Linked DNA regions of Homo sapiens. The gene in region 1 interacts genetically with each later gene. Each region holds a gene or a part of one and is shown in the gene's direction. Other genes may lie near its edges.

Region 1 (5,628 bases):
GTTCTGTGGAAAGCAGAGCCTCCCAGTCAGGGCACTCAGCATCTGCGGAAGGGCTTAGGAACCTACATATGAAATGAGTTCCCTGGGGTGACTGCAAAGTACACAATAGTTTAAGAAGCATTGGTGGCTATGAGGTGGCTCATGCATGTAATCCCAGCACTTTGGGAGGCTGAGGCGGGCAGATCACTTGAGGTCAGGAGTTCAACACCAGCCTGGCCAACATGGTGAAACCCCCCGCCTCTGCTAAAAATACAAAAATTAGCTGGGTGTGGTGGCGTTTGCCTGTAGTCCCAGCTACTCAGGAGGCTGAGGCAGGACAGTCGCTTGAACTTGGGAGGTGGAGGCTGCAGTTAGCCAAGACAGTGCCATAGTGACATAGTGGGTGACATAGTGAAACTGTCTCCAAAAAAAAGAAAAGAAAGAAAGAAGGAAAGAGAGAGAGAGAGAGAAAGAAAAAAGAAAGGAAGAAAGAAAGAAATAAAGAAAGAAGAGAAAGAAGCATGGATATTGATACTTGCATAGGGAGGGGAAGGGTCCCAAAGCCCCAGCTCCACCACCCAAACTTCAGGTCCCAGGTAGGAAGCAGAGGCACTTTCTCTGTGCCATTTATGGCAGGAGTGGGGAGGTTGGGGGTGGAGAGAGGATGGGGATCCTCTCCTATCATTTTCTAAAGATTGGGGGATTAAAATCTTGATGCATCTGGGTTCCTTGGGAACTTAATGCGGGGTGGACACTGCAGGCCAAAAGCAGTTCTGTCTGCACAGGGGGCCTCTGGGCCTGGAAAGCGGGGACAGGAGCCCAGAGAGTCTGCTGCCTCCGATGCTGCTTCAGCCCCCTCAAGAAAGTGTGGAACCTGCAGGGCCTCTAGATGTGAGTACCCCTTCTGCTGAAACAGGGGCATGAGACCTGGTGGGGTCTAGCTCTCTGTGGAGCCTGGGGAGGGCACCACTGACCCAGAGCTCTCCTCAGGTGCTGGGCCCCAGTCTCCAAGGGCGAGAATGGACCCTGATGGACTTGGACATGGAGCTGTCCTTGGTAAGAAGTGGGTCGGGGAGGGCAGAGGCCAGGGGTGGCTGAGTCAAGCCCTCTGGTCCATAGCTGTTCTCTGTGAGCCAAAGCCGTGTCTCTAGAAGAATTGTCACAGTGATTTCCCAGCTGTCCCCCTCAGCTGCTAGGTCCCCTCCCCAGCTGCTCCCTGCGGTTCTCACGCAGATGCAGCCCTTGGTTCCAGAGCGGGGTGAGCCTGAGCTGGCGGTCAAGGGGTTAAATTCTCCAAGCCCAGGTAATGGTTGTGATGACTCCTACCTGGGAGGACGCCGTGATTGGGCTGAGCTACCTTGATTGAGTGAGGGGGCAATCTGCAATTTGCAGGGAAATCCTGAGTTCAGGCTGCACTGCAGAGCGTTCCTTGAGCCACCCATGCCCTCACCATTGGGCGAGAGTGGGGAGGTTAAGAATGGATGTTTTATCCTAACTGAGCAGAAGGCAGGCGGGCAGGGCTCTCCTTCCCTGAAGAAAGGAGGGGGAACATTTCCCCTGGTGAGCGCAGTCCCACTTCTCCTAGGGAAGGACCCCACGCTCGGGGCCCCACTCCTGCTGGATGTCCAGGCGGCCTTGGGAGGCCCAGCCCTGGGCCTGCCTGGGGCTTTAACCATTTATAGCACTCCTGAGAGCCGGACTGCCTCCTACTTGGGCCCGGAAGCCAGTCCCTCCCCCTAAGACCCCGCGCCTCTGAAGGGGCTTGGAACCAGTCCGCCGCTGCACATCCTTCTTGGCTTCCTGGCGCCCCCTATCGGGGGTGAGCGAAGCCCCCACTACTAAATGGCCTCTCTCCACTACCCCGACTATCCCTGCACATAAACTCCGTTTTTTTTTTTTCTGTTTCTGGTCTCTTTTCTCTATCGACCAGGGAGCACAGGAGTTATGGGTGGGGGGTGATTTTGCATTTGTAGAAGCGTCCAGATACTAGGTTTTTAATAGAGGAACCCCAGGAGGGTGGAGGTGCTTGGGGATCCGGTGCCTAGCTCCCTTGCTTAGGCCCGGGTCCAGGGCTGGCGCGGGGCCGCTGCAATCTCTGGGAAGCGGGGGCTTCTGGGTCGCGCTCAGCTCTGCAATGCATGCGTTCTGTGATCCTGGTGAGTTGGTATCCTTCTCTGAACTTCCTCTGTGACAGGCAGAGAAGAGGGGTCGATGACAAGATAGATGGAAAGCACCTGGAAATTGGCAGGCCCTGAGTGGGCGCTGGACGTGTGGGGCCGCGGGCCGAACTGCCCCCTCCTGGCCTCATCTCCTGGTGCGCCCCGGGTGGGGAGGGAAAGCTGACTACATGCACGTCCCCAGCCAGCGCGCGGCCTCCGCGGTGTGGCTCCTAGTGCCCGGGGAAGAACCCTCACCCTCCCTATTCCCAGCAGCCCTGGCCGCCCCGCCCCCGCCGCAGCTGCTGCACCCACCCCCACCCTGCCCGGCCCTTTCTGCACCGTCATCTCCTGCCCCGCCGAGGCTTGACCCGTGAGTGGGGACGCCCAAAACGGGCCAGACCGGGAGCCCCACTCCCGGCTGTGGGAGGGAAGGGAAACCGAGATTGGGCAGAATCAGCGCCCCACCACCCGCTGCGGCGCTCGGGGGTCGGGGGGGCGGGGTGGGTAGGACTGTGGGCCCCGCCCTGCCGCAGGACTCTCAAGCTCTGGGACTGGGTGGAGGGAGGTAAGGGGCGGGGGGGGAAAATCCGTGCAGTCGCACATGCGCAAAGGCTCTTCACTGTCCCAAGACCCTGGCTTCCTGGCCAAAGAGCCCGCGCAGCGAGGTGGGGTTGGGGGCTGGGACCCAGCTCCGTGCCCCGCCACCTGGCTCTCTGGGAAGAATCGGACCTGTCACCCTCGAAGGACTGGCCGCTAAATAACTTCGGTATTGAGAGCTGTGTGAGCCTCAAAGGGAGGGCCCAGACCAGCTGGAGTCTCTACCCCCAGACAGGATAAAGGGCAGGACTTGGGGTCATAGGAGGAGGCGGCTAACATGAAAACAACTTAGGTTGGAGAGAAGGAGGGGCCAATCCAATCTGCACCCTCCCTGTGTCTGTCCCGAGTAGGTGCTGTCCCCCTCTCCCTTCCTTTGCCCACCGATTGGAGGGACACTCTGGAAAACTCAGTTGAAGAAAGCGGAGAGTCTGCGTGTACACAGTGCAATGATGTCAGTTAATGCACTAGTGAGGGCATGTGTTGTTCACGGTACACAGAAGAAGGAACCACCAGCCCTTGGGACACTTAGGCATTGGTGTAGACAAGGGAACATTTGAGTCCTGGACGATGGATAGGTCCACGGAGCGGAGGGAGGAGAAAAGGATTCCAGTCTTAGCGATCAGCATCAGCAAAGGCTCCGAGGTGCCAGAGGCATAGTGAGTTCTCCGATCCCTGGCTGGTGGAGGGAAGCTGGGAAGGGCCTGGCTGTCCAGGGTGGTGGGAGGAGGCTAGAGTAGCCAGACCAGATATTTTGGGTTGTCTCTGATGGGCAGTGGGGTGTGGGGGGGAGGTAGATAGGTATTTAGGATGGAATTCTGCTAGACAGGAAAATATAGTTCAGTTCCTCATAGTTCAGGCTGGAGCAAGTAAGATTCCAGTTTTACCACTGAATCTCTGAGCCTGTCTCCTCATCTGTAAAATGGGAACAGCAATCCTAGCCCAGAGGGTTGTCAAAGTCACTGTGCTATCGGGCCTGGCAGAATGGGAGTGAGAGGGGCTCAGAGGGACTGTTACAGGACATGAGGTGACGATGGTGGGGTGGCAAGGCAGGAGCTGATGGAGACTCACTGAGAAGTGGAGAAGCAAGATTCATCACATACGGGACATAAAGGGAGATGGAGGGGCAGGGGGTAGTCCTGGTCTCGGCCTGGTGGGGAAGGGCTTCAATGGGAGGAAGCCAGGGTGTGAAGTGACGGGGGAGGTATAGTGTGACACCAGAGGGTACTGAGAAAGACCTGGGAGGCAGGATGGCGGCTAGGACTAAATCCTCTCTCCCAGAGAAGGCCGAGCCTCCTAGAGCCAGAGAAGGAGGCAGAGGAGGGACAGCAAAGGGAAGAAGAGATGGGAGGATGCCGTGTGAACAAAGCCAAGGCGGGGAGGAGAAGAAGTTATTATCAGGGTGGGGGTGGGCTGAGGGCATGGTTCAAGGCCTGATGTCTTTGCCTCCTAATGCCGGGGGTCTTGCTGGCTGGGTCAGGCCACTCACAGGAATGGGCCATAATCCTTGGTTGACAATAAATGGACAAAGCAGCTGGGTGCGGTGGCTCATGCCTGTAATCCCAACACTTTGGGAGGCCAAGGTGGGTGGATCACGAGGTCAGGAGTTCGAGACCAGCCTAGCCAACATAGTGAAACCCCGTCTCAACTAAAAACACAAAAAATTAGCTGAGCGTGGTGCGGGCACCTGTAATCTCAGCTACTCGGGAGGCTGAGGCAGAAGAATCGCTTGAACTCAGGAGGCAGAGGTTGCAGTGATGAGAGAATGTGCCACTGCACTCCAGCCTGGGCAACAGAGTGAGACTCTGTCAAAAAAAAAAAAAAAAAATGGATAAAGCAGATTGACTCTCCCTAATAGCCGCTGTTGGTAGAGATAGTCTCTCAAGAGCCAGGCATGGTGGTTCACATGGTGGTTCACAAAGTGCTGGTAATCCCAGCACTTTGGAAGGCTGAGATGGGAGGATTGCTTGAGGCCAGCAGTTCGAGACCAGCCTGATCAATATAGCAAGACCAGGACAGGCGCGGTGGCTCACGCCTGTAATCCCAGCACTTTGGGAGGCCAAGGCAGGTGGATCACGAGGTCAGGAGTTCAAGACCAGCCTGGCCAACATAGTGAAACCCCGTCTCCACTAAAATAAATAAATACAAAAAATATATATAGCAAGACCCCACCTCTAAAAAAAAAAAAAAAAAAAAAGGCTGGGCACGAGAATCACTTGAGCCTGGGAGGCGGAGGTTGCAGTGAGCCAAGATTGCGCCACTGCACTCCAGCTTGGGCAACAGCGAGACTCCATCTCAAAAAAAAAAAAAAAAAAGTCTCTCAAAATAGTGCGATCCATGGAGGAAAATCAGTCCAAGTTCGGCAAGTATTTGTCGGTATCCTGTATGAGCTAGGCCTTGGGTACTTCAAGATCAAACAACAAATGTCTGTAGGTAATTCCCAGGTCAGCAGGGAGCCAGGTGGGTCAGCAGAGAGACAGTCACATTAGGAGTTAGGGCTTCAGTAGGGAGACAGGTGGGTCTCAGGTGATGTCAAGAGATCTTGGTCAGAGCTAGGCCTGAAGAAGATTCTGGTATCTCTGCTCAGGAATCAGGGGACCAGGAAGGGCCAGGAGACTACATTGGGGTTGCACTATGGTGGTGGTGTTGGTGGGAGGGTGTAGAGGCGGGGCTTGTCCTGGAAAGTTGGATATCAGGGTCAAGGTAAGGGGAGAGGGGCAGGGAGGCTCTCAGCACTTTGTGCTCTGGGTTCAGAGGGGACTGGAGGATAGAGTATGGAAGCAGGGAGCTCTGATCCTGGGTTCTGCAGGGCCAAAGCAGGAGGCAGAAGGCTGGACTTAGTAAGTGGTGAGGATGGTGAGAGAAATATTCAGCAGTCAGACTGGAAAGGACTTGT
Region 2 (7,786 bases), on another chromosome or scaffold:
CGCCCCCTCCGAAGCCTGGTGTGTGCGCGGGGGGAAGGAAGTTAGTTTCCTCTCCACCCATGGGCACCCCTTCTGCCCGGGGCCTGGGAAGTGGGCTGCTCTGTGGGCAAATGCTGGGGCCTCTGAAATGGAGGAGACGCAGCAGGGAGAGGCCCCACGTGGGCAGCTGCGCTGAGAGTCAGCAGCACCTGTCCCCCAGGCGCTCCTCCTGGTGCTGCTGGGGGCCCGGGCCCAGGGCGGCACTCGTAGCCCCAGGTGTGACTGTGCCGGTGACTTCCACAAGAAGATTGGTCTGTTTTGTTGCAGAGGCTGCCCAGCGGGTAAGTGGCCACAGGGGTGGGAGAGGCATGGGGCAGGCAGGGCTGGAGAGGTGGCGGGCAGGCCCGGGAGGTAAGAGGAGGCTGGCAGGGGAGGTAGGGGTAGGCTGACAGAGAAGTAGGGAGCTGGAGAGAAAGAGGGAGGGAGGGCAGGGTGGGAAGCAGGTCGGGGGTTGCTGGGCAGCCCCTCTGCCTGCCTGACCCCTGCCTGGTTCCACAGGGCACTACCTGAAGGCCCCTTGCACGGAGCCCTGCGGCAACTCCACCTGCCTTGTGTGTCCCCAAGACACCTTCTTGGCCTGGGAGAACCACCATAATTCTGAATGTGCCCGCTGCCAGGCCTGTGATGAGCAGGGTGAGGGGCTTCTCAGTGCTTGGCAGGGAGTTCCTAAGGACAGGCCTTTCTGAAGGAAGTGGCTGGCTCGGGCCCAAACTTGGGGTGTGAGGGTCCTGCACCCACCCTTGCCAGAACCCTCCACCCTGATCCTCCTTCAGGGTGCCCTTGCCCCTTCTCTCTTCCTGGTGACCTTCCCATCTCTCCATGTGCCTTGGCCTCTGGTCGGCCTTAATCTCTGAGCTTCTCTCTTTTTTAGGGTAGCCCTGTACCTGTCTGTCTTTCGCCTATTTCTGTCTCCATTATCTTGGGATAATGCCTCTGCCTCTCCATGGGAGCCTTTGGCCCTGACTAACTCTCCACTCCCCATCTCCCTGCACCCCCACCAGCCTCCCAGGTGGCGCTGGAGAACTGTTCAGCAGTGGCCGACACCCGCTGTGGCTGTAAGCCAGGCTGGTTTGTGGAGTGCCAGGTCAGCCAATGTGTCAGCAGTTCACCCTTCTACTGCCAACCATGCCTAGACTGCGGGGCCCTGCACCGCCACACACGGCTACTCTGTGAGTACCCCCACCCAGGGCTCTCTACTCCCAGACCCCCTTCTCCCTGCCTGACCCACTCCTGTCCCATGGTGACGCATGCCTCTCCTGGATTGCAGGTTCCCGCAGAGATACTGACTGTGGGACCTGCCTGCCTGGCTTCTATGAACATGGCGATGGCTGCGTGTCCTGCCCCACGTAATTCCTAGCTGTCGTGGGATGGAGGGAAGGGCGGCTGGGAGCAGAGCAGGGGCCTGGGGTGGGGCAGGTGCTGCTGGTTCAGGAATAGGAAGAGGGGATAGGGAGGAGGGAGCCTTGGCCCTGTGATGGGTGGGCCCCACTTCAGGCAAACTTAGATGGCAAAAGAGCAATCTGGATCCGCCTTAGCCAGATACATAAGGGTATTTGCCTTCACTTTCAGCCAGCATTCCCCCCAGCGATCCTAGCCAGATATTACAGATGATTTGTCACTTACACAGAGAGTCACATTGATATAGCTTTAAAACTTGGGCTGAAGGAGGTTGAGGCTGCAGTGAGCTATGATCGTGCCACTGCACTTCAGCCTGGGCAACAGAGCGAGACCTATTAAATAAATAAATAAATATTAAATCTATTAAATATTAAATATTAAATCTATTAAATAAATAAATACAAAGGGCTGAGAGTCAGGACTGTGCTGCTAGTTCTCTAGGGGATCTTGGGCAAGTGCAGAGAATTCGCGTCTCTGATGTGTGGTGTCCCTTTCTCAACATGGGATGTTAGCAGCTAATTCACAGGCCTTTGATCAGAGGTAAGGGACTTTCTGTAGCTATTCAAGTCTTTTTTTTTTTTTTTTTTTTTTTTTTTTGAGATGGAGACTTGCTCTGTCACCCAGGCTGGAGTGCAGTGGCACGATCTTGGCTCACTACAACCTCTGCTGCCTGGGTTCAAGTGATTCTCCTGCCTCAGCCTCCCAAGTAGCTGGGACTACAGGAGCCCACCACCACCCCCGGCTAATTTTTTGTATTTTTAGTAGAGACGGGGTTTCACCGTGTTAGCCAAGATGGTCTTGATCACCTGACCTCGTGATCCACCCGCCTTGGCCTCCCAAAGTGCTGGGATTACAGGCATGAGCCACCGCGCCCGGCCTCCATTCAAGTCTTTATTGAATATCTGCTATGTTCTACACACTGTTCTAGGTGCTGGGGATGCAACAGGGGACAAAATAGGCAAAATCCCTGTCCTTTTGGGGTTGACATTCTAGTGACTCTTCATGTAGTCTAGAAGAAGCTCAGTGAATAGTGTCTGTGGTTGTTACCAGGGACACAATGACAGGAACATTCTTGGGTAGAGTGAGAGGCCTGGGGAGGGAAGGGTCTCTAGGATGGAGCAGATGCTGGGCAGTCTTAGGGAGCCCCTCCTGGCATGCACCCCCTCATCCCTCAGGCCACCCCCGTCCCTTGCAGGAGCACCCTGGGGAGCTGTCCAGAGCGCTGTGCCGCTGTCTGTGGCTGGAGGCAGAGTAGGTGGTGTGCTGGGAATGCGAGTGGGAGAACTGGGATGGACCGAGGGGAGGCGGGTGAGGAGGGGGGCAACCACCCAACACCCACCAGCTGCTTTCAGTGTTCTGGGTCCAGGTGCTCCTGGCTGGCCTTGTGGTCCCCCTCCTGCTTGGGGCCACCCTGACCTACACATACCGCCACTGCTGGCCTCACAAGCCCCTGGTTACTGGTAAGTACACACACCCACACACGCACCCAGAAGCCTGGGGTCAGGATGGGTAGCCCAGAGTCTACTCAACCCTGATACAGAAGGGGAAACTGAGGCAGGGAGTGTGGGGTGCAGAGGAACCCTAGAGGAGCTGTACCAGCACCCAGGTCCAGGAGGCTTGCCTGGTGGCTGACCGCAATCTCTCTGTGTCTGTCAGCAGATGAAGCTGGGATGGAGGCTCTGACCCCACCACCGGTAAGAACCTCACTGTGTGATTCTGGGCTGCCTTCTGGAGCTGGAAGATCAAGCCTTACTATGATCCCTGGAGCTTGGCACGCGGCCAGCACCGGGTAGCCCTAGTGGACAGAGGTGTTGGGAGCAGAGTCATCAGTGGATGAGACCAGCACAGTGCCTGCCCTCAAGGGGTGCTCAGTCAGCTGGAGTTCAGATTCGTACACAGGAGCTAACAGTTCAATGGAAGGAGAGCCCCATGGTGCTGGGGGACAAGAGGAAGGAGGCGGGGGCAGGGGACTCAAGGCAGAAGCAAGAGTTCTGCTGGGCTACAGTGAGAGCAGGGCCAACTGTGGGAGGTGTCATTGCGGGGGTGTCTGCTGACTGAACCAGGGACTGTCCCCTCCTGGAGAGGCACTGCGGGTAAGGGGCCTTACTTGGCAAGCAGGGCTGACCTGGGGCCCCTCTTGGCTTCCAGGCCACCCATCTGTCACCCTTGGACAGCGCCCACACCCTTCTAGCACCTCCTGACAGCAGTGAGAAGATCTGCACCGTCCAGTTGGTGGGTAACAGCTGGACCCCTGGCTACCCCGAGACCCAGGAGGCGCTCTGCCCGCAGGTGACATGGTCCTGGGACCAGTTGCCCAGCAGAGCTCTTGGTAAGGGACATCAGTGGCCTGAGGCCTTGACCCCATTCTCCTGTCTGCGGTGGGAAGTTGTGGTTTCACAACGTGTTCCCTTTCTGCCCCCTAACTGACGGAGTCCGCCCTATGCCCTGACCCACCGGATCCAGCGGGCTTCAGCCCTGGGGTACCCGCACGAACGCCCCTGACTCTGCCTCCCGACCGCGGCCCACGTACCCCAATTGGCTCTCTCTGGCCCTGCCCCAGGCCCCGCTGCTGCGCCCACACTCTCGCCAGAGTCCCCAGCCGGCTCGCCAGCCATGATGCTGCAGCCGGGCCCGCAGCTCTACGACGTGATGGACGCGGTCCCAGCGCGGCGCTGGAAGGAGTTCGTGCGCACGCTGGGGCTGCGCGAGGCAGAGATCGAAGCCGTGGAGGTGGAGATCGGCCGCTTCCGAGACCAGCAGTACGAGATGCTCAAGCGCTGGCGCCAGCAGCAGCCCGCGGGCCTCGGAGCCGTTTACGCGGCCCTGGAGCGCATGGGGCTGGACGGCTGCGTGGAAGACTTGCGCAGCCGCCTGCAGCGCGGCCCGTGACACGGCGCCCACTTGCCACCTAGGCGCTCTGGTGGCCCTTGCAGAAGCCCTAAGTACGGTTACTTATGCGTGTAGACATTTTATGTCACTTATTAAGCCGCTGGCACGGCCCTGCGTAGCAGCACCAGCCGGCCCCACCCCTGCTCGCCCCTATCGCTCCAGCCAAGGCGAAGAAGCACGAACGAATGTCGAGAGGGGGTGAAGACATTTCTCAACTTCTCGGCCGGAGTTTGGCTGAGATCGCGGTATTAAATCTGTGAAAGAAAACAAAACAAAACAAAAACGGCTTCTTGGCGTTTCTGCGGGGCTGGGGTGTTAAGTGGACTGGACTTTTCTCGAGGGATTCGAAGGGGACGGGAATCTTGTCACCCCGGGATCTGGCACCCATGGTGGAGTCCAGTGTGGCCTTAGCTCCCAAGCCTGCCCCTCCCGAGTCCACTCTGGCTCAATTACCCCGAGAAGGAGAGAGCAAGTCGCGGCCACAGCGAGTGAGTGAACCGGAGCCCAGATGAGAGCGCTTTAATGGGGCTGCGAGGTGGCGGAGACAGGGTCGGGATGGGGTGCAGCAGTTGGAGACACAGGGTCAGGGCCCCTCATCCTCTATTCACTCCACCGGGGCAGTGAAAGGGTCCCGGCAGCGAGTGGGTCTGGCTGGGGACGGGGCGCAGACTTGAGGGAGGTGGGGCCAGAGGTGGGGTCCCGGGGGCCACAAGTGCGGCCCGGCCAGACAGGCAGTTTTCATGTTTCTGGTAAACAAATGACTGAGAGGAAACCCTTGGCGGGGATAAGAAATGAGGCCCGGGCTAGGCCGCGCGCAGATCTGGGTCAGAGAGGAAGGGAAAACCCCTTCCCCGAGCTCGGGGCCTGCCTCCACCCAGGATGCGCCAGCGACGCCGGTTCCGGGGTGCGGGGGAGGGGGCTGCATCCTGGAGGGGGCTGAGCCCCGCAGGAAAACAAAGTCACCACCCACGGGGCTGGGGAGAGCTCTGCACTCTTTGATAGTCAACGAACATGCAAATATATGTAAGTCGGCATGCAAATAAGCAGCATTTGTTGTTGTTTGCGTCAGCAGCTTGGGCACTTTTTCTGGGCAACCGTGGCGGCGTGTGCACTCCAGTGTTGCCAAGGGCTGGGGATACGGGGGGCCAGGGTGGGGGTCAGGGAGGGTTTCCAGCGCAGGAGGGGAGGGCTGTGCGGCTCCCAGCCTTTCCACCAGGGCCTGGCTGGCTGGGGCTGGGGCGGAGGGCCCCACGGAGCTGCGAGGCTGCGGACAGGAGTCTGCGGCCTCTAGTACTTAGCGATGTCCCCCTTCTTCAGGATGACCTGTCGCTGCCAGGGCGCCAGCTTGCTCTCATCGTAGCCCAGCGTCCGCAGCTTCTCTGACTGTTCCTTCTCCCGCCGCAGCTCCTCCTGCTTCTGTCGCTCCTCCTCTTTCCTGAGGCAGTGGGGAGGGGGGCAGACCCGGTGAAGTCTGGGGCCAGATACCCAGGCTGGCAGAAAGGGTGGGGCCAGGCACCAGGCAGAGGCCAGGTCACCCATGCAAGGGGTGGGTTACTGAGGGCTGGGGCTCGGTTGCTGAAGACAGAGGGGCTAGATTGGGGGCAGAATGGGGTTACTGGAGCACAGGGGAGCTGGGTGAGTGGGAGGTTAAGGCTGGATTATTGTGGGCTGGGGTTTTACTGGAAACAGAGGTGCTGGGTCACTGTGTGGCACCATGTGAGGAGGTGGTATTGCTGGGTGCAGCAGCAAGATTACTGGGACCAGGACTTGAGTTGTGGGGGAGCTGTCAATATGAAGTATTGAGGACTGGGGTGGGGCTGCTGGGGAGCAGAGAGACCATATAATTGAGAGAGGGACTGAGAATTAGAGACAAGTTATTAGAACATAGAGGGTAGATCTGCCTGTTGACAGAGTAGTCACTAAGCACATGTGGCTGCTGAACATTTGAAATGTGGCTGGTCTAAATTGTGATGGATTGCAGGTGTAAAATGTGCATGATATTTCAAAGACTAAGTTTTATTATTATTTGAGTCAGGGTCTCGCTCTGTTGCCAGGGTGGAGCGCAGTGGTGAGATCATGGCTCACTGCAGCCTCGACCTCCTGGGCTCACGTAATCCTCCCACCTCAGCCTCCCAAGTAGCTGGAACCACAGATGTGTGCCACTACGCCCAGCTATTTTTTTTTTTTTTAATTGAGACAGAGTCTCGCTCTGTCACCCAGGCTGGAGTGCAGTGGCACGATCTCGGCTCACTGCAACCTCCACCTCCCAGTTTCAAGTGATTTTCCTGCCTCAGCCTTCTGAGTAGCTGGGATTACAGGAGCGTGCCACCATGCCCAGCTAATTTTTGTATTTTTAGTAGAGACGGGGTTTCACCATGTTGGTCAGGCTGGTCTTGAACTCCTGACCTCAGGTGATCATTCTGCCTCCGCCTCCCAAAGTGCTGGGATTACAGGCGTGAGCCACCGAGCCCAGCCCGCCCAGCTAATTTTTTTTTTTTTTTGAAATGGAGTCTCACTCTGTTGCCCAGGCTAGAGTACAAAACGGCGTGATCCTGGCTCACTGCAACCTCCGCCTTCCAGATTCAAGTGATTCTGCTGCCTCAGCCTCCCGAGTAGCTGGGATTACAGGCATGCGCCATCACGACCACCTAATTTTTATATTTTTAGTAGAGACAGGGTTTCACCATGTTGGCCAGGCTGGTCTTGAACTCCTGACCTCAGGTGATCCACCCGCTTCAGCCTCCCAAAGTGCTGGGATTACAGGTATGAGCCACTGCGCCCAGCCCCCTGCAGCTAATTAAAAAAAATTTTTTTTGCAGGCCTGGTGCGAAGGCTTACGCCTGTGATCCCAGCACTTTGGGAGGCTGAGGCGGGTGGATCACCTGAGGTCAGGAGTTCGAGACCAGCCTGACCAACATGGCAAAACCCGGCCTCTACTAAAAATACAAAAATTAGCCGGGCGTGGTGGCGGGCGCCTGTAATCCCAACTACCAGGGAGGCTGAGGCAGGAGAATCACTTGAACCCAGGAGGTAGAGGTTGCAGTGAGCCAAGATTGTGCCACTGTACTCCAGCCTGGACAACAAGAGCAAAACTCTGTCTCAAAAAAAAAGAAAAAAGCCAGACTTGGTGGCTCATGCCTATAATCCCAGCACTTTGGGAGGCCGAGGCGGGTGGATCGCTTCAGGTCAGGAGTTTGAGACCAGCTTGGCCAACATGGTGAAACCCCATCTCTACTAAAAATACAAAATTAGCTGGGTGTGGTGGCACACGCTTGTAATCCCAGCTACTTGGGAGGCTGAGGCAGGAGAATCACTTGAACCCAGGAGGCAGAGGTTGCATGAGCCCAGATCGCCACTGCACTCCAGATTGGGTGACAAGAGTGAAACCCCATCTCAAAAAAAAATTTTTTTTTTTTTTTTTTTTTCGCAGAATGAGGTCTCACTGCATTGCCCAGGCTGG
Region 3 (8,398 bases), on another chromosome or scaffold:
GTATTACTGGCCTTTTGAGCCCATCCCCATTTGCATAGATGATCCACGTGGGTTATCATCTGGCTGGTATGTTCCCAGAGTGAAACTCAGCAGCCCCTTGAGGGAGGGGATGGTGGCCATCAGGCCAGAGTATTGCAAGTTAGTTTGGATCATTTGCTAAGCAGCTTGTGGTGCCTTCAGAAAGGAACAGTTTCAAAGAACTTTCACATCTGTTGGCTCATTTCGCCCTAATGACAGTCTTCTCTTTGATATTTGCATGGCATTAAATTTTGCCTTTCTTGTTTTCTCCAGAAAACGCCCACTCCTGGATCTTCACATTGAACTCAATGGCTACATGTATGATTGGAACAGCAGAGTTTCTGCCAAGGAGAAATATTATGTCTGGCTGCAGCACACTCTGAGAAAGAAACTTATCCTCTCCTACACATAAGAAACCAAAAGGCTGGGCGTAGTGGCTCACACCTGTAATCCCAGCACTTTGGGAGGCCAAGGAGGGCAGATCACTTCAGGTCAGGAGTTCGAGACCAGCCTGGCCAACATGGTAAACGCTGTCCCTAGTAAAAATACAAAAATTAGCTGGGTGTGGGTGTGGGTACCTGTATTCCCAGTTACTTGGGAGGCTGAGGTGGGAGGATCTTTTGAACCCAGGAGTTCAGGGTCATAGCATGCTGTGATTGTGCCTACGAATAGCCACTGCATACCAACCTGGGCAATATAGCAAGATCCCATCTCTTTAAAAAAAAAAAAAAAGGACAGGAACTATCTTACTCAATGTATTAGTCATGTTTCTCTAGAGGGACAGAACTAATAGGATACATGTATATAAAAAGGGGAGTTTATTAAGGAGTATTGACTCACATGATCACAGGGTTAGGTCCCACAATAGGTCATCTGCAAGCAAGGAAGCCAATTCAAGTCCCAAAGCTGAAGAACTTGGAGTCCAATGTTTGAGGGCAGGAAGCATTCAGCATGAGAGAAAGATGGAGGCCAGAAGACTACACCAGTCTAGTCTTTCCATGTTTTGCCTGCTTTTATTCTGGCAGTGCTGGCAGCTGATTAGATGGTGCCCACCCAGATTGAGGATGGTCTGCCTTTCCCAGTCCACTGACTCAAATGTTAAATCTCCTTTGGCAGCACCCTCACAGATGTACCCGGGAACACTTTGCATCCTTCTATTCAATCAAGTTGATACTCAGTATTAACCATCACAGTCCATTTGGGCAACTATACCAAATTACCATAGACCAGGTGACTTAAACAGCAGTTATTTCTCACAGTTCCGGAGGCTGGGAAATCCAACATCTAAGTGGTAGCATATCTGGTGTCTGGTAAGGCATGCTTCCAGATCTTACCAGATGTCAGTCTTTTGATGTTCTCACATGGCAGAAAAAGAGGATGCAAACTCTCAAGTATATCTTTAAGGGCACAAATTCCATTCATGAGGGCTCTACCCTCATCACCTAATTACCTCCCAAAGGCCCCACCTTCTGATACTGTCACTTTGGGGATACTGTCTCCCCTTTGAATTCTGGGGGGAATACAAACATTCAGTTTGTAACAATAGCCTTATGATTTAGAGGTTACTTGTTCATTCACCTAGACCTCAAATTGCATTTTACAGCTAGTCAAGTATATCTTTCTCTGATTTGATAGTGTGACCTAAAAGGGGACCATTGTTTGAAATATCATTAGAGTTGCTTATTATTATTATTATTATTATTATTATTATTATTATTATTATTATTGAGACAGAGTTTCATTCTGCTGCCCAGGCTGGAGTGCAGTGGCATCATCTTGGCTCATTGCAACCTCTGCCTTCTGGGTTCAAGCGATTCTCCTGCCTCAGCCTCCCGAGTAGCTGGGATTACAGGCTCCTGCCACCACACCCGGCTAATTTTTGTATTTTTAGTGGAGACAGGGTTTCCACCATGTTGGCCAGCGTGGTCTTGAACTCCTGACCTCAGGTGATTCACCAGCCTCGGCCTCCCAAAGTGCTGGGATTACAGGTGTGAGCCACTGCACCTGGCCTATTATTATTTTTAAATTTTTTTTTTTTAATTGATCATTCTTGGGTGTTTCTCACAGAGGGTGATTTGGCAGGGTCACAGGACAATAGTGGAGGGAAGGTCAGCAGATAAACAAGTGAACAAAGGTCTCTGGTTTTCCTAGGCAGAGGACCCTGCGGCCTTCCGCAGTGTTTGTGTCCCTGGGTACTTGAGATTAGGGAGTGGTGATGACTCTTAAGGAGCATGCTGCCTTCAAGCATCTGTTTAACAAAGCACATCTTGCACTGCCCTTAATCCATTTAACCCTGAGTGGACACAGCACATGTTTCAGAGAGCACAGGGTTGGGGGTAAGGTCATAGATCAACAGCATCCTAAGGCAGAAGAATTTTTCTTAGTACAGAACAAAATGAAGTCTCCCATGTCTACTTCTTTCTACACAGACACAGCAACAATCTGATTTCTCTATCTTTTCCCCACCTTTCCCCCTTTTCTATTCCACAAAACCGCCATCGTCATCATGGCCTGTTCTCAATGAGCTGTTGGGTACACCTCCCAGACGGGGTGGCGGCTGGGCAGAGGGGCTCCTCACTTCCCAGATGGGGCGGCCAGGCGGACGCGCCCCCCACCTCCCTCCCGGACGGGATAGCTGGCCGGGCGGGGGCTGACCCCCCACCTCCCTCCCCGACGGGGCGGCTGGCCGGGCGGGGGCTGACCCCCACGCCTCCCTCCCGGACGGGGCGGCTGCCAGGCGGAGGGGCTCCTCACTTCTCAGACGGGGTGGCTGCTGGGCGGAGACGCTCCTCACTTCCCAGACAGGGTGGCTGTCGGGCGGAGGGGCTCCTCACTTCTCAGACGGGGCAGCTGCGGGCGGAGGGGCTCCTCACTTCTCAGACGGGGTGGCCGGGCAGAGAAGCTCCTCACATCCCAGACGGGGGGGCGGGGCAGAGGCGCTCCCCACATCTCAGACGATGGGCGGCCGGGCAGAGACGCTCCTCACTTCATCCCAGACGGGGTGGCGGCCGGGCAGAAGCTGTAATCTCGGCACCCTGGGGGGCCAAGGCAGGCGGCTGGGAGGCGGAGGCCGTAGCCAGCTGAGATCACACCACTGCACTCCAGCCTGGGCAACATTGAGCACTGAGTGGACGAGACTCTGCCCGCAATCCCGGCACCTCGGGAGGCCGAGGCTGGCAGATCACTCGCAGTCAGGAGCTGGAGACCAGCCCGGCCAACACAGTGAAACCCTGTCTCCACCAAAAAAATACGAAAACCAGTCAGGCGTGGCGGCGCCCGCAATGGCAGGCACGCGGCAGGCCGAGGCGGGAGAATCAGGCAGGGAGGCTGCAGTGAGCCGAGATGGCAGCAGTACAGTCCAGCTTCGGCTCGGCATCAGAGGGAGACCGTGGGGAGAGGGAGAAGAGAGGGAGGGGGAGAGGGCTATTTTTAAAATTTTTTAAAATTGCTGAACAGGGGTACCTCTGGGCAGTGTGTCAGAATACCACTTTTTAAATATTTTATGATTTATTTATTTTTCTATTTCTTGAGGTTTTAACTGATGTGTATCTGTATGTCTATTTGTGTATATTTTGTCATGATCATGTAACAGAGTCTGAAAAGTGTCGAAGAGACAGTTTTCAGGAACAACAAGCAATTATTCCTACTTTCCAAGTTATTTTGATGCCATGGTGGCTCATACCTATAATCTGAGTACTTTGGGAGGCTGAGGTGGACTGATCACTTGAGCCCAGGAGTTTGAGACCAGCCTGGGCAACATAGCAAGACTCCATCTCTACAAAAAAAGACAAAATTTAGCTGAGCGTGGTGGCGTGTTCCTGTAGTCCCAGCTACTTGGGAGGCTGAAGTGAGTGGATCCCCTGAGCCCAGAGAGGTCAAGGTTGTGATGAGCTGTGATCACACCACTGCACTTCAGCATGGGAGACAGAGTGAGACCCTGTTTCAGAAAAAATAAATAAATAAAACCACCAGCACCACAAACAACAACAAAAAGTTATTTTGTACTTGTTTTGAGCACAGGACTCCTGAGGGTATCTTTGCATTTAATATTACATAGGGGTGCCAGTGGGAAGTAATGTGTATGCTTGGCCTCATGAGCTAAAACCCTGTGTTAATTATGACAGAAGGAAAGTGTGTGAGAGAGATCTTAACTACCTAGCAGCTCTAGCTGCCATCTTGAACCATGAAGATACGGGCCACACGTAGGGGTAGCTGGGTAGTGAGCAGCAAGAAGCCTTGTTGGATGAGGGCACGAAGGAGCAGAATCACTGGAATCACTGTGTCAGCCCTAATTACCTACCTCTGGACTTTTATGTGAGGGGAAAAAAAATTGACAGTTTATATTTATCTCAACCTAGTTAACCCAAGTGATGCATTGTTATGAGATTAAAATGTTTGGAGGCCGGGTGCGGTGGCTCACGCCTATAATCCCAGCCCTTTGGGAGGCCAAGGCGGGCGGATCACGAGGTCAGGAGATCAAGACCATCCTGGCTAACATGTAAAACCCCGTCTCTACTAAAAATACAAAAAATTAGCCAGGCGTTGTGGCGGTCGCCTGTAGTCCCTGCTATTTGGGAGGCCGAGGCAAGAGAACGGCATGAACCTGGGAGGTGGAGCTTGCAGCGAGCTGAGATCTTGCCACTGCACTCCAGCCTGGGCGACAGTGCGAGACTCTGTCTCAAAAATAAATAAATAAATAAATAATAAATAAAATGTTTGGAATGTTGGCTTCATCCCTGGGATGCAAGGCTGGTTCAACATACGCAAATCAAGAAACATAATTCATCACATAAACAGAACTAAAGACAAAAACCACATGATTATCTCAATAGATACAGAAAAGGCCTTCAATAAAATTCAACGTTGCTTCATGTTAAAAACTCTCAATAAACTAGGTATTGATGGAAAATATCTCAAAATAATAACCATTTATGACAAACCCACAGCCATTATCATACTGAATGGGCAAAAGCTGGAAGCATTCCCCTTGAAAACTGGCACAAGACAGGGATGCCGTCTCACCACTCCTATTTAACATAGTATTGGAAGTTCTGGCCAAGAAAATCAGGCAAGAGAAACAAATAAGGGGTATTCAAATAGGAAAAGAGGAAGTAAAACTGTGTTTGCAGATGACATGATACTATATCTAGAAAACCCCATTATCTCCACCCAAAAGTTCCTTAAGCTGATAAGCAACTTCAGCAAAGTCTCAGGATACAAAATCAATGTGCAGAAATCACAAGCATTCTATACACCAACAATACACAAGCAGAGAGCCAAATCATGAATGAACTCCCATTCACAGTTGCTAGAAAGAGAATAAAATACCTAGGAATACAGCTAATAAGATGTGAAGGATCTCTTCAAGGAGAACTACAAACCACTGCTCAAGGAAATAAGAGAGGACACAAATGAAAAAACATTCCATTCTCGTGGATAGGAAGAATCAATATCATGAAAATGGCCATACTACCCAAAGTAATTTATAGGTTCATTGCTATTCCCATTAAACTACTATTGACATTCTTCACAGAATTAGAAAAAAACTACTTTAAAATTCAAATGGAACCAAAAAAGAGCCCGTATAACCAAGACAACAATAAGCAAAAAGAACAAAGCTGGAAGCATCACACTACCCAACTTCAAAGTATACTGCAAGGCTACAGTAGCCAAAATGGCATGGTACTGGTACAAAAACAGACACATAGACCAATGGAACAGAATAGAGACCAGAGAAAGAAGACCACACATCTACAGCCATCTGATCATCGACAAACCTGACAAAAACAAGCAATGGGGAAAAGATTCCCTATTTAATAAATGGTGCTGGGAAAACTGGCTAGCCATATGCAGAAAATTGAAACTGACCCCTTCCTTACACCTTATACAAAAATTAACTCAAGATTAAAGACTTAATGTAAAACCTAAAACTATAAAAACCCTAGAAGAAAATCTATTTAATACCATTCAAGACATAGGCACAAGCAAAGGTTTCATGACAAAAACATCAAAAGCAATTGCAACAAAAGCAAAAATTACAAATGGGATCTAATTAAACTAAAGAGCTCCTGCACAGCAAAAGAAACTATCATTAGAGTGAACAGGCAACCTACAGAATGGGAGAACATTTTTGCAATCTATCCATCTGACAAAGGTCTAATATCCAGAACCTACAAGGAACTTAAAACAAATTTACAAGGAAAAAAACAACCCCATCAAAAAGTGGACAAAGGACATGAACAGACACTTCTCAAAAGAAGACATTTATGTGGCCAACAAACATATAAAAAAAAGCTCAACCTTACTGATCATTAGAGAAATGCAAAGGAGAACCACAATGAGATACCATCTCATGCCGGTCAGAATGGTGATTATTAAAAAGTCAAAAAACAACAGATGCTGGCGAGGCTGTGGAGAAGTAGGAACACTTTTACATTGTTGGTGGGAATGTAAATTAGTTCAACCGTTGTGGAAGTGTGTGTGGCTATTCCTCAAAGATCTAGAACTAGAAATACTATTTGTCCCAGCAATCCCATTACTGGGTATATACCCAAAGGAATATAAACCATTTTATTATAAAGATACATGCACATTTTTGTTCATTGCAGCACTCTTCACAATAGCAAAGACACAATAGCAAATGCCCATCAAAGATAGACTGGATAAAGAAAATGTGGTACATATACACCATGGAATACTGTGCAGTGCAGCCATTACAGCTTTTGGTGATACAGTGAATCAGATTTTTCATTAATTCTTTTAATTGGTTATTACTGAACGTGAAAAAGTAATGTTTGTATTGAAATCTTGAGTCTGGCCATGTTTCTATTTTAAATTCATAAAGAATTCTAACAAGAGGAATTCCAAGAATGTCATAAATGGATGTTTCTCCATGGATGAAGGAACTGTTTTATTCACTTGCTGATAATTCAGCCTAATCCAGTTTGACATCATATAGATAAGTAGTTGAATTATGGATTTAAAATACATATCATTTTCTAACTCCAAAGGTAATACTTATTTAAATGGTTTTGAAAATATAGAAAGGCACAATTTCTTTTTAAATCTGTTATTCTCCACCACCACTCAATCTGTCTATCATCTATCTCTCCATTCATTCTTCCATTTGTTTATATCTGTTAATCTTTGTATGTGTTCATGTATAGCTTTTACATGATTGGAATCATAATGCATATTCCATTTTGAAGTCTGCTTTTTTTTACACAAAAATATGTTGTGAATATTTTCCTATATTATGAAATATCATTAGCTGAGCTTTTAGAATTGACTGCATGTTTTGGTACCATTTAGATATAGTTTAAGATACTTAGAAGTTATGTGGCTTTGCCACTATGGATGAATCTTATTTACTCAATATTAATTACTTACAAATAACCTCACCTAAACACTACTCAGCCATAAAAAGGAATGAATTAATGACATTCACAGCAACCTGGAGACTATTACTCTAAAGGAAGTAACTGAGGAATGGAAAACCAAACATTGTATGTTCTCACTCATAAGTGGGAGATAAGCTATGAGGATGCAAAGGCATAAGAAGGATACAATGGACTTTGGGGACTTAGGGGAAAGGGTGGGAGGGGGGTGAAGGATAAAAGAATACAAATTGGGTTCAGTGTATACTGCTCAGGTGATGGGTGCACCAGAATCTCACAAGTAACCACTTAATTACTTACGCATGTAACCAGATACCACCTGTTCCCCAAACACCTATGGAAATAATTTTGTTTTTTTTTTTAAAAAAGGAATGAGATCATGTCCTTTGCAGGGACATGGATGAAGCTGGAAGCCATTATCCTCAGCAAACTAACAGAGGAGCAGGAAACCAAACACCACATGTTCTCACTTGTAAGCGGAAGCTGAACAATGAGAACACACGGACACAGGGATGAGATCAACACACACTGGGGCCTGATGCAGGGGCCGTAGCGGGGAGAGCATCAGGATAACTAGCTAATGCATGTGGGGCTTAATACCTAGGTGATAGGTTGATAGGTGCAGCAAACCACCATGGGACACGTTTACCTATGTAACAAACCCGCACATCCTGCACTTGTATCCAGAACTTAAAATATTTTAAAAATCTTTAGAGAATACAAAAAAAAAAAAAAAGATTCTTCAATGCATACACAATAAAATTGCAGTTCAGTCAAACATTGGAAGTCTTTCTCTGACTGTCTAGTTGGTATCTTCATTTTCAGCTTCTTCAAGATCCCACTCCAAACACTGTTAGCTCAGCCAAATTGAACAGCTCATATCTCCTACCTCTGGATCTTTGGTTCTGGTGATTGTATATTTCTGGACCATCTGGAACCCCAGCATATCACCCTACCCCACATCTCCACATCCCCAAAATATA
Region 4 (8,398 bases), on another chromosome or scaffold:
CCTGGCCACTAGGGGACTTGAACAGTTTCTAAACAGACAATTATTTTCTGTTTTTATTTTTAGTGTGGTGGCATGATCACAGCTCACTGCAGCCTCAACCTTCTGGGCTCAAGTGATCCTCTCACCTCAGCTTCTGGAGTAGCTGGGACCACAGGTGCATGCCACCACACCCGGCTAATTTTTAAATGTTTTTGGTAGAGATGGGGTCTTGCTATGTTGCCCAGGCTGGTCTCAAACCCCTGGGCTCAAGTGATCCTCCTTCTGCCTTGGCCTCCTAATGCGCTGGAATTAGAGGCATGAACCACTGCACCAGGCCAACAGACAATTATGTGTGTTATCGTTTTGGGGTTACTAAGTCATAGTGGAGTGAATGCAGCTTTGAGGATGCTCAGGCAATGCTTGAGCTGATTGTTCATGGATGGGCCTCTGCAGATAGACAAGGGGATGGGGTGTAGCGGCACCACAGAAAGGGGTGAGGGCAGGGCAGCTGGGTGTGTTTGGCTTCAGGTCCTTTCGTGTTTGCGGTCTGGTCTGTGATAGGGATGTATTCGGAGACTTTGTATTCCAGAACCGAATGCTTGGCCGTCTTACTGAAGATAATGACTGGGAGAATACTGACCAGTTTTGATTAGGGAAGTCATGAGCCAATGTGCATTTTGAAAAGCATAATTTCCAAAAGGCAAAGCATTTTGCTATTGCAACAAAATCTCCATTTTACAGAAAAAAAAAAAGGAAAACAAGATTTACTCAACTGAAATAAACTGAAAGAAAAGTTGATAGAACTTTAAATTGTTAAGGGTGGGAAAGTCGGGGAGGAGCCAGTAGACTTCTGTGTCACCACACCAGCCTCTTTCCAAGGGCTCAACTCATAAACCATGCCATTAACTGGCTTTATGTTGAAGGGAGGCCTTTGGAATCAAGCCCACTGTGACTCCATATATCAAATGGGAAATTATTTGGGAAAAGATTTCTAAAGTGTCTCCATTTCCCACCACAGGGTCATGCTCTATCAGATTTCAGAAGAAGTGAGCAGATCAGAATTGAGGTCTTTTAAGTTTCTTTTGCAAGAGGAAATCTCCAAATGCAAACTGGATGATGACATGGTAAGACCTGGTATCTTACTGAGATTTAGTCCTGAGACTTGGTTAGCCAGGGGGCATTTCTGAGACCAAAGAGAGGGGTATTTTGGTAAAAGCAACCTGGATTCTCACTTTTTAACTAGAAGAAGAAAGTTGTCAGCACGAGTGTTACAGATGTGATTCCTTTAGACCGAAGTGCTGCTCATGTTAATTATTGGGAGCAAGGCAGAGTCAGAGGCCGGGAGAAGGAGGCTGTGCAGATGCAGCCCAGACCCGGCAGAGCTGGGAAAGACTGCGGTGGGTCTGAGATATTTCCTCCACTTCTGCAGTCCCCGAAACAACCTGGGACCTGAAACTCTGTGTGTATATTGTGTCTGTGTGTTGTGTGTGTATTTCCGTGTCTGTGTGTGCCTTTCTCTGTGTATAGTGTGTGTCTGTATTTGTGTGTGATATGTGTATCTCTGTGTGTCTCTGTATAAGTGGTGTGTGTGTCTGTGTATCTCTGTGTGTGTGTTCTCTGTGTGGTATGTGTGTCTGTGTGTTGTGTAGTGTGTATTGTATTTATGCCCCTGTGTGTGTATCACTGAGTATACTCTGTGTGTGTTGTATCTGTGTGTGTATGTGCATGTGGTGTCTGTGTGTGTGTGTCTGTGTGTCTGTATGTACTCAGGTCTGGAGAGGCAATGCTGGGGGTGAGGCTGTTCCCCAGGGTGTCACCATGATGACCGGGCTGCTGTCTCAGGTTGTTTCACAGTCCCCAAGTAATGCATTCGCAGGAGATTTGAGCACAGGGCCTGGGGACTGGGTGACATCTGACATGGCTTCTCCTTTATCCTCTCACTTCTGTCTTTCTGGGCCAGAAAACATGGAATCGCTTCCCTAGTAGCCTGCTGGCTGTGAGAGACCAGCAGAAACTGTCAGAAACTTGGGAAGCAAGGGCAGGTCCTTGGTTGGAGAAATTGGAAATTAAAAAAAAAAATCTAATCTAAAAACCAGTAGGGCTCAATCCAGATTCCCAACTTTATTTCTCCTCCTCTTAGAACCTGCTGGATATTTTCATAGAGATGGAGAAGAGGGTCATCCTGGGAGAAGGAAAGTTGGACATCCTGAAAAGAGTCTGTGCCCAAATCAACAAGAGCCTGCTGAAGATAATCAACGACTATGAAGAATTCAGCAAAGGTAGAAACAACCTGACAGCCGGGAATCGGCAAAACCTACTCTAAAATTGAAACTGACAAATCGCTCCATATCACAGTTGTTTCTAATCAAATATTGTTTGGGGTTTCCCCTTTTAATTCAGAGAGAAGCAGCAGCCTTGAAGGAAGTCCTGATGAATTTTCAAATGGTAATGCTTGGAGATACATTTTCAAGATTTAGTTAATTTACTATCTGGTACCTGCATGTGTCCTCCCCACAGCCTTCTACCACATGCACATCTTAACGTGCCTGCTCTACTTTTTCTTTTTTTTTTTTTTTTTGTGAGACAGTTTTACTTTGTTTCCCAGGCTGGAGAGCAGTGGCACCATCTCGGCTCACTGCAATCTCCGCCTCCCAGGTTCAAGCAATTCTCCTGCCTCAGCCTCCTGAGAAGCTGGGATTACAGGTGCGTGCACCACCACGCCTAGCTAATTTTGTATTTTTATTAGAGATGGGGTTTTACTATATTGGCCTGGCTAGTCTCAAACTCCTGACCTCAGGTGGTCTGCCTGCCTTGGCCTCCCAAAGTGCTGGGATTACAGGCATGAGCCACTGCGCCCGGCCGCACCTGCTCTCCTAAGACCTGTAGCCCAAGCTGGCAAGTTTGAAATAGGTGCAGAGTTAGTCAGTAGTAAGTAATTTAACATCATTTTTTCTATGTGGCTTTTTTTTTCTCCTTGACGTGCTGCTCATGTTATGCACTGAGTAGCTGGATTTAAATTATGTTTCATAATTTTCTTGGTTAAGTCACTTTCTCTTTCAACACCTTCTACACTAAGTCACTCCTTTCAACTTCCTTTCACTTTTTCTACCTGATAAGCGAGGCTGAACCAAGAGAGAGAGCTCTCAACGATCTCCTTCAAAATTTTGATTAATCAAATAGTCTTTTTTTTTTTTTGAGACAGTGTCTCACTTTGTCCCCCAGGCTAGAATGCAGTGATGCAATCTTGGCTCACAACAGCCTCGACCTCCTGGACTCAGATGATCCTCTTGCCTCAACCCCCTGAGTAGCTGGGACCACAGGCACAAGCCACCATGCCCGGCTAATTTTTGTATGTCTTGTAGAGATGGGGTTTCGCTATGTTGCCCAGGCTGATCTTGAACTCCTGAGCTCAAGCCATCCACCTACCTGGGCCTCCCAAAGTGCTGGGACTATAGGCAATTAATAAAGTATTCTTTCTGATTAGAAAAATTATATACACTAATTGAAGATTATTTTAAATTCAGAGAAATTTTTACAAGTCCAAGAACACCATCACTCCATTCATATTATGAATATTTTTATTGTATTTTTACGTTGGCTCTTTGTGGTGTGTGTGTGTAAAATACATTTTGGATCACTCAAATGTATTTTAAAGATTAATGTCTATGCAGGCTGTCCTTCCCTTTCCCCTCTGCCTGCTGAGCCTAAGGCCTTAAGAATACTTTAAGGAGTAAAGTACTAAATCATTAATTCATCCTGAGCTAGTGGCTTTATTAATGAGTATCTCACAAATACCACAAAAATTCAACCTGGCCATGTGGAGCAATATAAAATTATGGCATTTCTTGGTATGTTTTTCTCTTTGGCGAGGAGACAACTTGATCTTGTGTTTCCAGAAGCATGTTAATTGCCCTGCTTGCAGAATCTCTCTGGCTTGAAAGGAGATTATATTCATGGCAGTCTGTGAATTTTCATTTTATTTCATTTATTTATTTGAGACAGAGTCTCACTCTGTTGCCCAGGCTGGAGTGCAGTAGTGCGATCTCAGCTCACTGCAACCACTACCTCCCAAGTTCAAGTGATTCTCCTGCCTCAGCCTCCTGAGTAGCTGGGACTACAGGTGGCTACCACCACGCCCGGCTAATTTTTTTGTACTTTTAGTAGAGACAGGGTTTCACCATGTTGGCCAGGCTGGTCTTGAACTCCTGACCTCAAGTGATCTGCCCATCTTGGCCTCCCAAAGTGCTGGGATTACCGGCGTGAGCCCCTGTTCCCAGCTTGAATTTTCATCTTAAAAAAGACCTTATGTTGTCCTATGTGCTACATATTTCATTACCAGTGTACCTTTCCTGCCATGTCTCATTCTAGATGTGTCTCTTCGTTGTTTGCAGGGGAGGAGTTGTGTGGGGTAATGACAATCTCGGACTCTCCAAGAGAACAGGATAGTGAATCACAGGTAGACGGAAACCTCCAAATCCTTTTTTTTACATTACAGATTCTAGTTATTTAATTTGTTAGCTTTTTTTTTTTTTTGCTGCCAGATAAACTGACAAGGGGCAGAAACTTACTGAAAATTTTGAGAACTGTAGAAAAAATTCACACAAAAAAAGTTAAAAATGTGACTTAATTTTTAAAATGTGACTCCTTCAGTTTTCTATACATTTGAATTTTATTTTAAGACCCGAGATGAAGATACTGGAATAGTTGGAGGGTGGAGGGGGTAATAAGCCTCCTACCAAATCTTCTAGCAGCCGTGCCAGCCTGGATGGGGGAGTGGTTTGGAGAAAGAGTCTAGCAGGAATGGAAAAAGCCAAGCCTTTTCCTTTAGCTTAATGTTTCAAAAATGCTTCTCCTTGGTGATGAGGTGTAAGCAGCAAACTCTCACAATCTAGCCATCTCTGTGTTTTTGTCTCAGTGAACCAGCAGAAACATGTAATTTTTAGGCATAATAACTTCTCTTTATGTAATCAACAATCCACCAAATACATCCTGACTTATTAGACGATCTGCTCCTCCTCATGGTAGGAAGAAGAGGAAATCCTGAATATCTGAAGTAGGCTTGAGAGAGATTATTCACTAGTGTGGGCTCCTGAGAAAATTACCAGACCTCTTTCATCTGAAAGTCAAGGATTAACCCAAGTAATGTGGTACTTTCTAAACAGTATAGCATGCTACAAGCATTGTCCCCACTGAAGAGCTAAAAACACTGTCTTAATATCTTAGTAAATCTTAGTATCTTTTTCCTTTTTTAATGTTTTATTGAGACAGGGGTCTTGCTACGTTGCCAAGCCAGGTCTCGAACTCCTGGCCTCAAGCAATCCTCCTGCCTTGGCCTCCCAAAGTCTGGGATTATAGGTACTAGCCACCGTGCCTGGCCAAATCTTAGTGTCTTAGTATCTCAGTAAATACACTTAATATGCTTAATAAATACTTAGAACACAACTGTAAATAATAAAAACTTAACATACTTGGTACAAACTTAATCAAATATTTAATATCTTAGAGTTAACATATTAAGATAACAGGTTATTTGCCCAAAGTCATAAGGTGAAGTAGAGGCAGGAATTGGGCTTCCTAGCCTGGAGTCCTTTTCTCCACCTCAAGGGGCTACGCAGACCTCCAACTAAATGCTGAGTTTCTCGGTACTGAAACAGCCCTAGGAGAATGAATAGGACACAGCGCCATCCCTGGCCAGTACTATCAGGTACTACAGTTTGGATACCATAACCTACAGTGTAGCCAGGACCTCCCTGACCAGCCCATCTCTTCCCAGCAGCCACCGTGGTCCTGAGAGCTGGGTTAAGCCATCACCTTTAAAATCCTGGGACCACACTGTGCAATGCATGAATGGGAGACCCTCAGCTGTTAGCCACGAAGCACAGATGAGTTCAGTAGACAGCCAAGAGAATCACAAGTCATGGCGTGGGGGCAGCCAAAGACATTCATTCATTCAGTGACTCTTGATTGAGCTCTCACAAGTTAATACACCGTAGTCCCTGGCACAGATGTTATGAACCTCAAGGAGTCTTCTGTATAGTATGGGAAGCAGAAATGAGAACAAACAATAATACAATGTGATGACAACAATATTAATATATGTGCAAAGTGCTCAGGAGGCCCAGGTATTGGGACACTGACTTTACAACGATGGGGCAGAAGTCTGAGAGGTCCTGTGTGAAGGAAATAGGTAGAAACTAGTTCTTCGAGGAAACGACCCCGAGTTGGGGTGGTGCAATGGAAAGCAAGTCCTCTTACTAGGGAGTTGTTTGTTTACATCTCTAGTGTTTGACCCACAGAGTCAGCTCCTGGGTTGGGTTTTTGTTTTCCAGACTTTGGACAAAGTTTACCAAATGAAAAGCAAACCTCGGGGATACTGTCTGATCATCAACAATCACAATTTTGCAAAAGCACGGGAGAAAGTGCCCAAACTTCACAGCATTAGGGACAGGAATGGAACACACTTGGATGCAGGTACAGTAGAACCCAAAAGAGAAAAGTAAAATATTTCTTATGCCTATTTTTTTTTAAATCAAAAGGGAGAGAACAAAAGCTATACCAAAAGGGCCATGTTTCAAGAAAATGGATTTAAACATATTTCCCTGTGGAGGTAAAGAACATTCTTATACATTTATCAGTTTCCTGCTTTTTTTAAAAATTAATTTTTTAAATAAAAGTAATGTATGTATAAATATAAAATATCAAATCTTACTAAAAGACATAATGAAAAGCAGTAATAAGCTTTGTTTTGAATTCAGCTAAATGCATAGCGCTTCTGTGGAATGTATTAGGCGATGAAATTGCTGTGGTATCAAAGTTCTTATAGAGGCTGCATTTTTACAGGTTGGGCTGTTAAGTGCAGCAGAAATTGTGGGTTCTTAACAGAAATAGCATTTTCAAGTATTAAATATTAAACTGGTTAGCAATTCTTTTGCTCAGCCAAATTAAGCTAAGATCAAGAACTTACAAGTTAAATGAAAAAACAATTTGTAGTATGTGAATATAAAAAGTGACTACAACAACAAAAAATAAAAATCATCCATCACCATTGAGAGATTAATAATTTTGATTTGATCAAAGAACTTTTGGAAATAGTGTTTATCAGGCATAACATCAATTATTGATTTGTTTTGCAAATGGAGGTAAGTTTAGAAAATTAATGTAGACTGATTATAATCATCAGGAGTCTGTAATGGCCCCTATTAACATTTTTTTTTTTTTTTTGAGACAAAGTCTCACTCTGTTGCCCAGGCTGGAGTGCAGTGGTGTGATCTCAGCTCACTGCAGCCTCCACCTCCCTGGTTCAAGTGATTCTCCTGCCTCAGCCTCCCAAGTAGCTGGGACTACAGGCACACACCACCACACATGGCTAATTTTTGTATTTTTAGTAGAGATGGGGTTTTGCCATATTGGCCAGGCTGGTCTTGAACTCCTGACCTCAAGTGATCCGCCTGCCTCGGCCTCCCAAAGTGCTGGAATTACAGGTGTCAGCCACCTGTACCTGGTCCCTGCTAACATTTGATTTGTTTATTTAAGCAAATCTAAGCCTTTAAAAAGGCACAGAGATTAAGTCCATTGATTACATCATTCGTCACTATGCGCTTGGTATTGAAAAAAATATTTTGGACCCTTGATTTGTATTCTTTTAAAATTAAAACATTTCTATTAAAATAACATTTGCTTCTATTTCTGGCAGCTCATTTTCTTATAACTGGCCCATGATTGACTAGTCTCTGGTAGGCATTCGAGTCTGTGTGTCCTGCTTTTTCTGTTCCTGTTCTTATGTTTTATGCTGAATGAGTAAAAGTAGGAGACCCAGCTGCAGAAGTCATTTCTCCTGAGAGACTCCCTTCTGTCCTGCTTCAGTGCCTTCAGACTTGCTTTACAGTCATTTTTTTAATCAACATTCCACATTTCCAAAGGATCAGAATTTTTTTCACAGAACCAACACACTGTATTAGTCTTGCCAAAGTGCTTCCAAATCAACAAGGGCCTATTGCATTTCAGTTATTTTTTTCTATTCCTAATGCTAGACTGTATTTTTTCTTTTTTTTTTTTTTGAGGCAGAGTCTCACTCTGTTGCCCAGGCTGCAGTGCAATAACATGATCTTGGCTCACCGCAACCTCTGCCTCCCAGGTTCAAGTGATTCTCCTGCCTCAGCCTCCCAAGTAGCTGGGATTACAGGCATGTGCCACCATACCCAGTTAATTGTATTTAGTAGAGATGGGGTTTCACCATGTTGGTCAGGCTGTTCTTGAACTCCTGACCTCAGGTGATCCACTCGCCTCGGCCTACCAAAGTGCTGGGATTACAGGTGTGAGCCACTGCACCTGGCTGAGACTGCCTTTTGACTGATGACTTATGTTTAGCTCTGATGTGCTGACAGGGACAAAATGCTGGAGAAGGAATAAAAAAGGAATA

Evidence for each region.
Region 2: of NOL3 (region 1) and TNFRSF25, changing one suppresses a phenotype caused by changing the other (phenotypic suppression), as found in Homo sapiens cells (one study listed by BioGRID).
Region 3: of NOL3 (region 1) and CFLAR, changing one suppresses a phenotype caused by changing the other (phenotypic suppression), as found in Homo sapiens cells (one study listed by BioGRID).
Region 4: of NOL3 (region 1) and CASP8, changing one suppresses a phenotype caused by changing the other (phenotypic suppression), as found in Homo sapiens cells (one study listed by BioGRID).

The regions. Positions count from the first base shown.
Region 1 is NC_000016.10:67,168,067-67,173,694, forward strand, and holds the start of NOL3 (nucleolar protein 3), read left to right. Parts: upstream 1-2,471; 5' UTR 2,472-2,508; intron 2,509-3,085; exon of another isoform or gene 3,086-5,628. Other genes in the region: HSF4 (heat shock factor protein 4), read left to right, coding at 765-870, 970-1,035, 1,213-1,282, 1,565-1,719.
Region 2 is NC_000001.11:6,457,974-6,465,759, reverse strand, and holds the end of TNFRSF25 (tumor necrosis factor receptor superfamily member 25 isoform 2 precursor), read left to right. Parts: intron 1-199; coding exon 200-320; intron 321-537; coding exon 538-672; intron 673-1,040; coding exon 1,041-1,208; intron 1,209-1,306; coding exon 1,307-1,385; coding exon of another isoform or gene 1,386-1,389; exon of another isoform or gene 1,390-1,649; intron 1,650-2,612; coding exon of another isoform or gene 2,613-2,632; coding exon 2,633-2,688; coding exon of another isoform or gene 2,689-2,695; intron 2,696-2,789; coding exon 2,790-2,897; intron 2,898-3,093; coding exon 3,094-3,131; intron 3,132-3,585; coding exon 3,586-3,766; intron 3,767-3,997; coding exon 3,998-4,326; 3' UTR 4,327-4,574; coding exon of another isoform or gene 4,575-4,580; 3' UTR 4,581-4,974; downstream 4,975-7,786. UniProt on the Homo sapiens protein: Receptor for TNFSF12/APO3L/TWEAK. Interacts directly with the adapter TRADD. Mediates activation of NF-kappa-B and induces apoptosis. May play a role in regulating lymphocyte homeostasis.
Region 3 is NC_000002.12:201,163,544-201,171,941, forward strand, and holds part of CFLAR (CASP8 and FADD-like apoptosis regulator), read left to right. Parts: exon of another isoform or gene 1-291; coding exon 292-430; 3' UTR 431-8,398. UniProt on the Homo sapiens protein: Apoptosis regulator protein which may function as a crucial link between cell survival and cell death pathways in mammalian cells. Acts as an inhibitor of TNFRSF6 mediated apoptosis.
Region 4 is NC_000002.12:201,270,519-201,278,916, forward strand, and holds part of CASP8 (caspase-8 isoform 2 precursor), read left to right. Parts: intron 1-997; coding exon 998-1,103; intron 1,104-2,119; coding exon 2,120-2,258; intron 2,259-2,379; coding exon 2,380-2,424; intron 2,425-2,584; coding exon of another isoform or gene 2,585-2,682; intron 2,683-4,370; coding exon 4,371-4,435; intron 4,436-5,004; exon of another isoform or gene 5,005-5,118; intron 5,119-6,308; coding exon 6,309-6,450; exon of another isoform or gene 6,451-7,024; intron 7,025-8,398. UniProt on the Homo sapiens protein: Thiol protease that plays a key role in programmed cell death by acting as a molecular switch for apoptosis, necroptosis and pyroptosis, and is required to prevent tissue damage during embryonic development and adulthood.